Linked DNA regions of Homo sapiens: region 2 is linked to region 1. The links come from fine-mapping of genetic effects on gene expression. A gene starts in region 1. The other region holds a variant in brackets. All regions are shown on one strand. Distances are from middle to middle. Region 1 holds the start of USP35 (ubiquitin specific peptidase 35). Region 2 overlaps USP35 (ubiquitin specific peptidase 35).

What was found. PIP is the estimated chance that this variant, and not a neighbour inherited with it, causes the effect. A credible set is the group of variants that fine-mapping cannot tell apart.
Region 2: its variant is the best candidate, but not a certain one, in a credible set for the expression of USP35 in whole blood (TOPMed, PIP 0.80).

Annotation. Positions count from the first base shown.
Region 1 is chr11:78,185,867-78,191,378 of GRCh38, forward strand. It overlaps USP35 (ubiquitin specific peptidase 35), which reads left to right and starts at 3,053. Exons shown (of 11, transcript NM_020798.4): 1 at 3,053-3,291. KCTD21 (potassium channel tetramerization domain containing 21) reads right to left here and starts at 2,760. Exons shown (of 2, transcript NM_001029859.3): 1 at 2,707-2,760. RefSeq lists silencers at 2,477-2,816, 3,247-3,406.
Region 2 is chr11:78,207,950-78,212,949 of GRCh38, forward strand. It overlaps USP35 (ubiquitin specific peptidase 35), which reads left to right. Exons shown (of 11, transcript NM_020798.4): 9 at 908-1,014; 10 at 1,499-2,795. Among named protein-coding and RNA genes, the nearest start is that of USP35, 22 kb to the left of the region's middle. RefSeq lists an enhancer at 2,410-3,036. The variant C/T (reference allele first, on the strand shown) is at 2,252.

The sequences.
Region 1 (5,512 bases):
CAGGCGTGAGCCACCGCGCCCGGCCAGGTCTGCCTATCTTCTGTGCTGTGATTCTGCCTGGAAGAAGATGGCTGTTCAGGCCTTGTTTTTCCTGCCTCATCATGAACCCAGAATCTCTGTAACTCGGCAGGAAAGAAACTCCTGTCATGACTCACTGTGAATGTTGACAAAGAGAGGCCACTCCTGGGCCTCAGAAATGTCAAGGATGGGCAGAAAGAACTGGAGACAGGCCAGGCTCAGTGGCTCATGCCTGTAATCCCAGCACTTGGAAGGCCCAGGTGGGAGGATCGCTTGAGTTCAGGAGTTTGAGACCACCTGGACAACATAATGAGACCTCGTTTCTATAGAGAAAAAAAAAAATTAGCTGGGCATGGTAACACGTGCTTGCAGTCCCAGCTGCACAGGCTGAGGTAGGAGGATCGCTTGAGCCTGGGAGGTCAGGCTGCAGCAAGCCGAGATCACGCCACTGCACTCCAGCTTGGGCAACAGAGTAAGACCCTGTCTCAAAAAAAAAAAAAAAAAAAAAAAAAAAAAAAAAAAAGAAAAGAACTGGAGAGGCTGTGTGGGGTAGGGGCAGACCATGCATGGTATTCGGCATTACCTGGGTTTGCATTTGAATCATCCCCTGCCACTTACTAGCTGTGCAGCCCTGGGCACGTTCCTGGGCAGATGATGATGATCATAACAACAACAAACACTACAACGGCAATAATAATGGCTAACGTTTATTGAGCAGTTACTACCGTGCTAGGCACTCTATACATGTTAATCTCTTTCAATCTCACAGATTAAGTAGATACTATTATATACCTACTTTACAGACCAACCATACTGGGCCCTCTTCGACTTCTGCAATTTGGCATCTGCCATCCCCTCTGCCTGGACCTTGAAGACAAATCCCATGCATCGGCCAGGTCTCTCAGCTGGAATTCATTCCTTCTCCTCTGCATCTGCGGAGAATTTTAGTCTAACCCCTTACCACAGCCAACTTTACTTAAGTAGATGGATGCCTGGCTCCCTTGCTGGGGCTGGGGGTGCCCCTTTCTATATCCACAGAAGCACGTAGAATAGGGGAAGAGGAAGAAATTTCTCTCCTGTTTAGTCAGATCCATTTTCCCCACCTGGATTTTCAAAACTTTTTAATTTTGAAATGCTCTGTTCAATTTTCAATCTGGAATCTAAAGGGATGTGACAAGGCCGAGGTGATTACTTGGGAGTAAATGCAAGGAGAGTTTCCACTGCGTAAGGGAATGGACAGCACGTGGCTGGGTAAATTTCAAAAAAGACAATGCTCAGAGTGAGTACTGTGTTTTCCAGTAAGTGGGAGACTTCCCCACCTTACCCCACCGGAGAAAGGACTCTTTGCCTTGAAGCCCCTAGGACGACTACCCTTTCTTCACCTCCTCTTCCTGACCACCCCACATCAAAGAGCTGCGTCTATAATTCTGTCTTGCCCAGTCCATATCTCTAAGAAATCCGAAGGCTGCTCTATTACCATCACAACCCATAGGGAGGAGAGAAAAGGTGCTTCCTAGACACAGGGACCCCAGAATGAGCTGCGCAAAAGGCAGGAGGAGAGAAAGGTGGGCTGGAAGAAGGAGACCACGGAATCTGGCACGGCAAGGTATTCTTTCATCTGGCGTAGACCTCCAACAACCACTACCATCCCCCAGCCCCTTCCAGAACTTTCCTTCACCTTCTCGGCTCACTCTCACGCTTCACCTTGTGCTTTTCCTCCGGCACCAGCACCCCATTTCAAACCGCTCTCTTCCTATGTCTCCTCCAAACAGTAATTTATAAACACCGTGCTTTCAAATCCATCTCATTTCATCCTCACAGTACTATAGGAGGGCTGCCTTACAGGCTGTCATTCGGAAGGGTTGGGGGGACTGGTCCTGCCAGACAATTTGCGAAGGTCGGGGCATCAAAACTTTTCTTTCCTGCCTCCCACGCCAAGCTAAACCTCTGCCTCCCCGAGTGCAGGGAGAAAAGCAAGGTCTTTGAAGTAAGGAGTCCTGAGTGGTTTTAGGCAAGTCCCTTCGCTTTTCTGAGCCTCACATTCCTCACCTGTCAACCGCTATAGTGACGCCTCTACTTTTCAGGGCGTGGGAGGTCAATGAGATCACTGGTGTGCCGCACTGAACTCGGGGATGGACTCTTTATTTCCAGTCAGTAAAGGGAGGTGTTCTATGCATCACAGGCTTTTGCCCACGCCGCCACAGCGCGGCCGGCCCAGGGCTCTCCAGAGCGGGGCAAGTTCCCTGTCATCTGTGTCTCCGCCCTTCCTTCCCCAATCTCACCCAGGCTGGCCTCATCGGCTTGTTCCGCACCCACTCCCCAGCCCTACAGCCCCCACTCCGACCTGACAAGTGCCCCACCCCCACCTAGAGATCCCGCCTCTCCTTGCCCCACCCACCAAGGACTCCTCCCACAGTCCCGACCCTCATTATCCGGGCTTTTCCGACTATCACCATCCGCCCTTGCTCTCCCAACAGCCCCGCCCCTCTAAGAGCTCTGCCCACTTCGGCTCACCTCGCTCCGAAACGCGCCCCCTCCCCCGCACCACAGGCGATGCCATCCCCATTTCACAGATGGGAATGGCGAGGCTGGGATAGATTAGTCTCATGGTAAGACAGGTGCTCAGTGGGCCCACGTACCCTCGCCGGTAGTCCCCGAGCCCCGCGACCCCGGCCGTGCCGCACCCACCTCCTGCCCTCGCTCTGCAGCCTCTCCCTCCGCGAGCGGCCAGCGCAGCTTTGCGAGGGGGGCGGAGGGTAGGAGCCCAGCCCAGGGGCGTGGCGGTCCGGGGTCTGTGCGCTGCCTTCCGGGACTGGTAGTTCTCTCTGGGCTCCTCGCAGCTCGGCGCGTCGAGAGCGAACTCCATCTCCCAGGAGGCATTGCAGCGAGTTGCTCTGCGCCCCGCCTCGTCCCCGCCGGTGTCCGGCCGGCTGGCCTTAAAGGGGACGCGGTCAGAGTGGCAGCTCGCGGGGTGGCCCCCGCTCCGGCTCCGCCCCATTTCACGCACCTCGCCCCTCCCCATGCTTCATCCCGCAGCCCCGGGGCCGCGCCGCAGAGTCGGGCTTCCTGGATACATAGAGGCTTGTGCCAGGCGGGGTGGGAAGACTGGATTTTGCAGTGGAAGCAGCATCTCTTCCGTCTGGGACCTGGCTGAGGGCGTCCCCACCCTGGGGGGAGCAGAGGACCAGCCCTGACCTAGCCGGGCCCAGCCTCGTCCTGCCCGGCCTGAGCGCCCCGCCCAGCAGCCGGCTCTGGCCCACCGGGGTCCGGGAGGTAAGGGGGTTGGGGGCGTGTGACTGTCTTTGGGGGGCGGTGTCTGCACCCTGGCCTTTCGAGAACCCTGGACTTGCGAGCCCAGGGCTGGGAGTCGGGAGATCTGGGTGCATCCTGGGCCTCCTGGGCCTCACTGTGTGACCTTGGGCGAGTAGCTATTCCTCTCTGGGCATTAATCCCCTCCCTTCATCAATTGTATGTCGAAGTGATCCTGCTCCCTCCCCTTTCAGGTAAGAGGGCATTCGCACCCAGTACCTAGTACATTCGCTTGCTGGCTTTTCGTGGGGCCCTCCAGCTCAAGCGTGGGCTGGGCGCGGGTGCACTGGAGGGAGGGAGGTGGCACAAACTGGGGGGCCCGAGGCCACCATTGCTTGGAATGGGCTTTTCCTATTCTCAGTGTGCTGGGCCCTGGGATACCCTCCCCAACCCCCTCTTACGGCCCTGGCCCTTGCAAACCGGAGACCCTGATGTGTCAGCTTGGTGCCCTTCCTTCCAGAAAGCTTGGGGTGGAGTGCGGCCCTCACAGGTTTGTGAGGGGTGGCCCCGCAGGGATAGGTGTGTGTGGTGGGTTCCTGAGGAGGAATAGCTGCTCCTGCTTTCTTCCCTTCTCTCTCCTCCTTATCCTTTGAGGAAGAGCAGCTGCTTTTTACCAGTGAAACCCTTTTTTCTTTTTCTTTCCAGGAGACAGTTTGGTGGCCCAGACATGGGCCTCCCGGAGTAGGGTGAAGCACTTCTTCCCAGGGTTGCCTTGGGTAGAAGTTCAGTTAAAAAATACCTAGAGAGATGCTGCCATTCAGACACCTGAGGGGCCAGAGATGGAGGGCACCACCTGGTGTCGGGAGGGGCAGCCTGGTACCCCCAAGGAAGCTCTGGCTCCCAGGGGAGTCAAAGGAGGGAGGCTGGCTTCGAGGGTCAGAGAGGGGAGGAAATGTGCTCCTCAGCTCTTAGGTGCTGAGCAGAGGCTGGGAGGGGCTGCTCTGACCTGGAGCAGGGAGAGGTTGAGTAACACCATGAAGCCTTCTTCTCAGGTCCTAGGAGATTCTGTGAGCTTTTGACCTGAAGGCTAACCAGGAACAGATTTTTGTTTTGTTTTGTTTTGTTTTTGTTTTGTGCTTTTTCTTTTGCTTTGGTTGTTTGAACAATTTCTAGAATGGCTAAAGCCTCAGTCCAGTCCAGTGACCTCTGTAGGGGCTTTCTTGACTGATGTTTAAGATTTTCAGGGTTTTTGATATGCAAGACCAGGCCTGGGCAAAGGAGGGGGTGGTGACTGGACCAAAGGTTAGGCCAGTTTCTGGAAGGTACTTTTGTGGTTACATCTTTGGTTTTCTCTCATCTTGCTGTCACATGTCTCTCATGAGTTGCTTGACGCACCTTCACGGACACCTCAGTCCTTGGTTCTGTACTGGGCACTGGGCTCAGAGACGGGGATTGGACCTCTGCCAAGGGAGGTCCCAGCCTGGTGGGAGACAGAGACATGGATTCCAGTTATGCTGCAGAGGGATGAGAATAGCTAAGAGGGCCTTGGAGGCCAGAACTTTAGACACTTGAATTGTGGAGGGAAAAGGAAAGGCTTCCCAGAGGAGAGGGCATGTGAGCTGGGCATTGAAGGGTGAGTCAGAATTTTCCAGGAGAGAAGAGGGAAAAGCCCTTTTTCAGTAGAGGGGACATTGTGCAAAGTAGCAGTCAGGAAAAAGCCCCCTGCTCCAATGTCTGCAGAGTCTCCACTGAACAATGTTGCTTGAGTTCATCTCCACCCCTGCCCCACATCAGCTGAGTGTCACAGAAAGGGCTTGCATGTCCGGCTCAGGAGTTTGGACCTTATTCTGGGTCCAAGGGGCTGGAGAGTGTTGAGAGTTCTGAGCAGGGGCATGGACGGAATGGTGCTTACCGTGTAATAAGCTCCATCTGACGATGCTGCATCTGGAGAGACCAAGGAGGGATGATGAAGCTTGAGCGGGGGCCCAGGGCGTGGCAGTGGGGCTGAGCATAGGAGTTGTGTACACACACATACACACACACACACAGGGTGCTTTGGGGTGATGGAGATAAGTCAGGCTCAACTGTGCAGGAGCAGAGATCAGTCAACACTCGGCAGAAATGTTGAGGGTCATCCGAGAGGAACAGGTGAAAGGATCTGGGCCTTTTGGCAGAGGGATTGGGATTTTCCTGAGTGCTCACTGCGTGCCTTGGAGTGTGCTGGTGTTGCTGGGACGCCCCTCAG
Region 2 (5,000 bases), 22 kb after region 1:
TATTTCTCAGTTTTGGAAGCTGGGAGGCCCAAGATCGAGGGGCTGTGTCTGGTGACGGCCTTCTTGCTGCATTATAATGTGGGTAGAAGGCATCACAGGGTGTGAGAGCATGCATGAGAGAAGGGAAAGCGGGATGAACTCACCCTTTTATCAGGAACCTGCTCCTGTCTCCATTTGTGGCTGCTGGGGAAAGCAAACGGCCTGTGATAAGGAAATAATACATTCCTGAGGGCAGAGTGCTCAGGACCTCATCCTCTCTTGAAGGTCCCATCTCTTAACACTGCTGCACTGGGGATTATGTTTCCAACACATGCTTTTTGGAGGACACAGTCACACCACAGCATGTTGCTTCATTCTGCTGTTATTTTTGAGTACCCACATGGCCAGGCAGCCTGAGAGCTGTTGAGGGTACAGAGGTGAACAGAACAAACACCATCTCTGCCCTCATGGAGCCTAAAGCCCTTGGCCAGGGATTATGCAAAGCTCTGTGTGGGGGCACAGAAATGAGTAATCCCTCCCTGGCTCATGGAGGGAAGGGAAAGGTCAGTGAGGGAGGGTTGGGAAGATGACATGGAAGAGGCAGCGCTGTATCTGGGACTCATCTTGACGGGAGAGAATGGCAGTGAGTGGAGGCAGGGAGAGAATGTTTGAGGTGTGCCAGGAAGAGAAGATTCCTAGAGCCTCGTTCATTTCTCTGAGCCCAATGCCCTGCTCAGCCCTGCTCAGAGGCGTGGACATGTGGGCTGGGTTGGGTCAGGGACAATAGAAAAGCGGGGAGGACCTCATGGAGGAGGCCAGGAAGTTTGAGGCCGAGGGAATGAGGTAGACCCTCAGGCCTAACCTGTGCAGAGCTGGCTGGTGAGTGGCCTCCTGCTCCTGACCATGCCTTTCGCCTGCCTTGTCCTAGCGGCCTGCCATTTCCCCAGAGAACTTCCTCTCCGCATCCTGGACGCCCTGGTTCAGCCCTGGCACCCAGCAGGACTGCTCGGAGTATCTGAAGTACCTGCTGGATCGGTAAGGGGGCCAGGGCTACGCGAAGACTCCAGGTCTAGAGGGTCCTTGGGGGCAAGCCCAGTACCTCTGAGCTGTGTTGCAGCGTCCAGGGAATAAGTGTGCTGCCTCCAACATGTGGAGGGCGTGGAGAAGGGGTGTGCTGGAAGGGCAGGGACTGAGTGTGAGGGAGGTTTGGTAGATGCTGAGTGGAAGTGATCTCTGGGAGGTCATTGTGTATGTCTGCACACCGGGCCGTGCATCTTTGTCACTGCCATGGGAGCACATTACATAGCTCCAGCAAGTCTTTATGTAGGGCGTGTGGGTGAGTGTAGCAAGCGTGCTGTTGTGAGCATGTACGTGGATGTGTGGGTGTTTGGTGTGTGCATGTGTGTTTGTGTGCGTCTCAATGTGTGGCTGTTGGGGAAGGTAAATGGGCATGGATAAGCTGAGTGCCCCGGAAGGGGACCCGCATGTACATGTAGTGACTCTGTGCTCTCTGCCCCAGGCTGCACGAAGAGGAGAAAACGGGCACAAGGATCTGCCAGAAACTCAAGCAGTCCAGCTCGCCCTCTCCGCCCGAGGAGCCCCCGGCCCCAAGTTCAACCTCTGTGGAAAAAATGTTTGGAGGCAAGATAGTGACTCGGATCTGCTGTCTCTGCTGCCTCAACGTCTCCTCCCGGGAGGAGGCCTTCACGGACCTCTCTCTCGCCTTCCCTCCTCCTGAGCGCTGTCGCCGCCGCCGCCTGGGCTCTGTGATGCGCCCCACAGAAGACATCACAGCCCGGGAGTTGCCCCCACCAACCAGTGCACAGGGGCCAGGCAGGGTGGGTCCTCGGAGGCAAAGGAAACACTGCATCACAGAGGACACCCCCCCCACCAGCCTGTACATCGAAGGCCTGGACTCCAAGGAAGCTGGTGGGCAGAGCAGTCAGGAGGAAAGGATAGAGAGGGAGGAAGAAGGGAAGGAGGAGAGAACGGAGAAGGAAGAAGTGGGGGAGGAGGAGGAAAGCACCAGAGGGGAAGGAGAGAGGGAGAAAGAGGAGGAGGTGGAAGAGGAAGAAGAGAAGGTGGAGAAGGAGACAGAAAAGGAGGCTGAGCAGGAAAAGGAAGAAGACAGCCTGGGAGCGGGGACCCACCCGGATGCTGCCATCCCCTCCGGGGAGCGGACATGTGGCTCTGAGGGCTCCCGCTCCGTCCTGGACCTGGTTAACTACTTCCTGTCCCCCGAGAAGCTGACAGCAGAAAACCGCTACTACTG[C/T]GAGTCGTGTGCCTCCCTGCAGGATGCCGAGAAGGTGGTGGAGCTGAGCCAAGGGCCGTGCTACCTCATCCTCACACTGCTGCGCTTCTCTTTCGACCTGCGCACCATGCGGCGCCGCAAGATCCTGGATGACGTCTCCATCCCCCTGCTGCTCCGCCTGCCACTGGCTGGTGGCCGTGGCCAGGCCTATGACCTCTGCAGTGTGGTGGTGCACTCTGGAGTGTCTTCGGAGAGTGGTCACTACTACTGCTATGCCCGTGAGGGCGCTGCCCGCCCTGCCGCTTCTCTGGGAACTGCCGATAGGCCAGAGCCCGAGAACCAGTGGTACCTGTTCAATGACACTCGGGTGTCCTTCTCTTCCTTCGAATCTGTCAGCAACGTCACCTCCTTCTTCCCTAAGGACACAGCCTATGTGCTGTTTTACCGGCAGCGGCCCAGGGAGGGGCCCGAGGCTGAGTTGGGCTCTTCTAGAGTCCGGACAGAGCCCACCCTGCACAAGGACTTGATGGAAGCCATTTCCAAAGACAACATCCTTTACCTACAGGTGAGCTGAGCCGTGGGGCCTTTGATCTGATCTCTTGGTGGAGGGAGTCCAGTCCCACTACTGGCTTAGATAAGTCATTTCCCCTCTAAGTCTTTTTTGTAAATCCCATTCATCTGTTGCTCAGTGCTGGGTATATACTGGTGGCCCAGACAGACCTAACCCCTTACTTCAAAGTAACAGACACTGAGTAATGAATGACGCAGTTTATTTTTTAAGTTCCAGGGTACATGTGTAGAATGTGCAGATTTGTTACTTAAACGTGTGCCATGGTGGTTTGCTGCACAGATCAACCCATCACCTAAGTATTAAACCCTGTATCTGTTAGCTATTCTTCCTGAAGCTCGCCCTCCCCCGCCACCCCCCAACAGGCCCTAGTGGGTGTTGGTCCCCTCCCACCCCCACCAGGTGTCCATGTATTCTCATTGTTCAGCTCCCACTTATGAGTAAGAGCATGCGGTATTTGGTTTTCTGTTCCTGCGTTAATTTGCTGAGGATAACGGCTTCCAGCTCCGTCCATGTCCCTGCAGAGGACATGATCTCGTTCCTTTTTATGGATGCATAGTATTCTGTGGTGTATATGTGCCACATTTTCTTTATCCAGTCTATCATTGATGGGCATTTGGGTTGATTCCATGTCTTTGCTATTGTGAAATGTGCTGCAGTGAACATACATGTGCATGTATCTTTATAATAGAATGACTTATATTCCTTTGGGTGTATAGCCAGTAATGGGATTGCTGGGTCAAATGGTATTTCTGCCTCTAGGTCTTTGAGGAATTGCCACACTGTCTTCCATGATGGTTGAATTAATTTACACTCCCACCAACAGTGTAAAGGTATTCCTATTTCTCTGCAACCTCACCAGCATATGTTGTTTCCTGACTTTTTAATAATCACCATTCTGGCTTGCGTGAGATGGTATCTCATTGTGGTTTTGATTTCTCTAATGGTCAGTGATGTTGAATTTTTCTTTCGTACGTTTGTTGGCCACATGAATGAATGTCTTTTGAGAAGTGTCTGTTCATGTCCTTTGCCCACTTTTTAATGGGGTTGTTTTTTTCTTGGACATTTAAGTTCCTTGTAGACTCTGGATATCGGACTTAGGTCAGATGGGTAGTTTGCAAAAATTTTTTTTCATTCTGTAGGTTGTGTCTACTCTGATGATAGTTCCTTGTACTCCGCATAAGCTCTTTAGTTTAAGTGGATCCCATTTGTCATTGTTTGCTTTTGTTGCAATTGCTTTTGATGTTTCCATCATTAAATCTTTGCCTATGCCTATGTCCTGAATGGTATTTCCTAGATTTTCTTCTAGGGGTTTAATACCTTTGGGTTTTACATTTAAGTCTTTAATCCATCGAGTGAATTTTTTGTATAAGGTATAAGGAGGGGGTCGAATGTCAACATTCTGCCTATGGCTAGCCAGTTCTTCCAGCAACATTTATTAAACAGGGAATCTTTTACCCATTGCTTGTTTTTGTCAGGTTTGTTGAAGATGGTTGTAGGTGTGGAGTCTTATTTCTGAGTGAGTTCTCTATTCTGTTCCATTGGTCTATGTGTCTGTTTTTATACCAGTACTATACTACAAGGCTACAGTAAGCAAAACAGCATAGTTTGAAGTCAGGTAGGCATTAGGCTTCCACTTTTGTTCTTTTTGCTTAGGATGGTCTTGGCTATATGGACTTTTTGGCTCCGTATGAATTTTAAAATAGTTTTTTCTAATTCTGTGAATGTGAATGGTAGTTTAACGGGAATAGCATTGAATCTGTTAATTACATTGGGCAGTATGGCCATTTTCATGCTATTGAGTCTTCCTATCTATCTGTGAGCATGGAATGTTTTTCCATTTGTGTCCTCTCCTTCACTTCCCTTGTTAGCTGTATTCCTAGGTATTTTATTCTGTTTGTAGCAGTTGTGAATGGGAGTTTGTTCATGATTTGGCTCCCTGCTTCTTGTTGGTGTATAGGAATGCTAGCAATTTTTGCACATTGGTTTTTGTATGTATCATCTTGAGAGTTGCTGAAGTTGCTTAACAGCTTAAGAAGCTCCTGGGATGAGATAATGACATGATTCTGTATCATCTAGAAAACCCCATTAATGCAGTTAATAAGTGTGCTGAAGGAGGAGTACAGGGACCAGTTGAGTCTGAGGGGGAGGAGGATGCTTCGGGTGTGGGGGGAGGGGGTCCCACTACCCACGTGAGCCTCC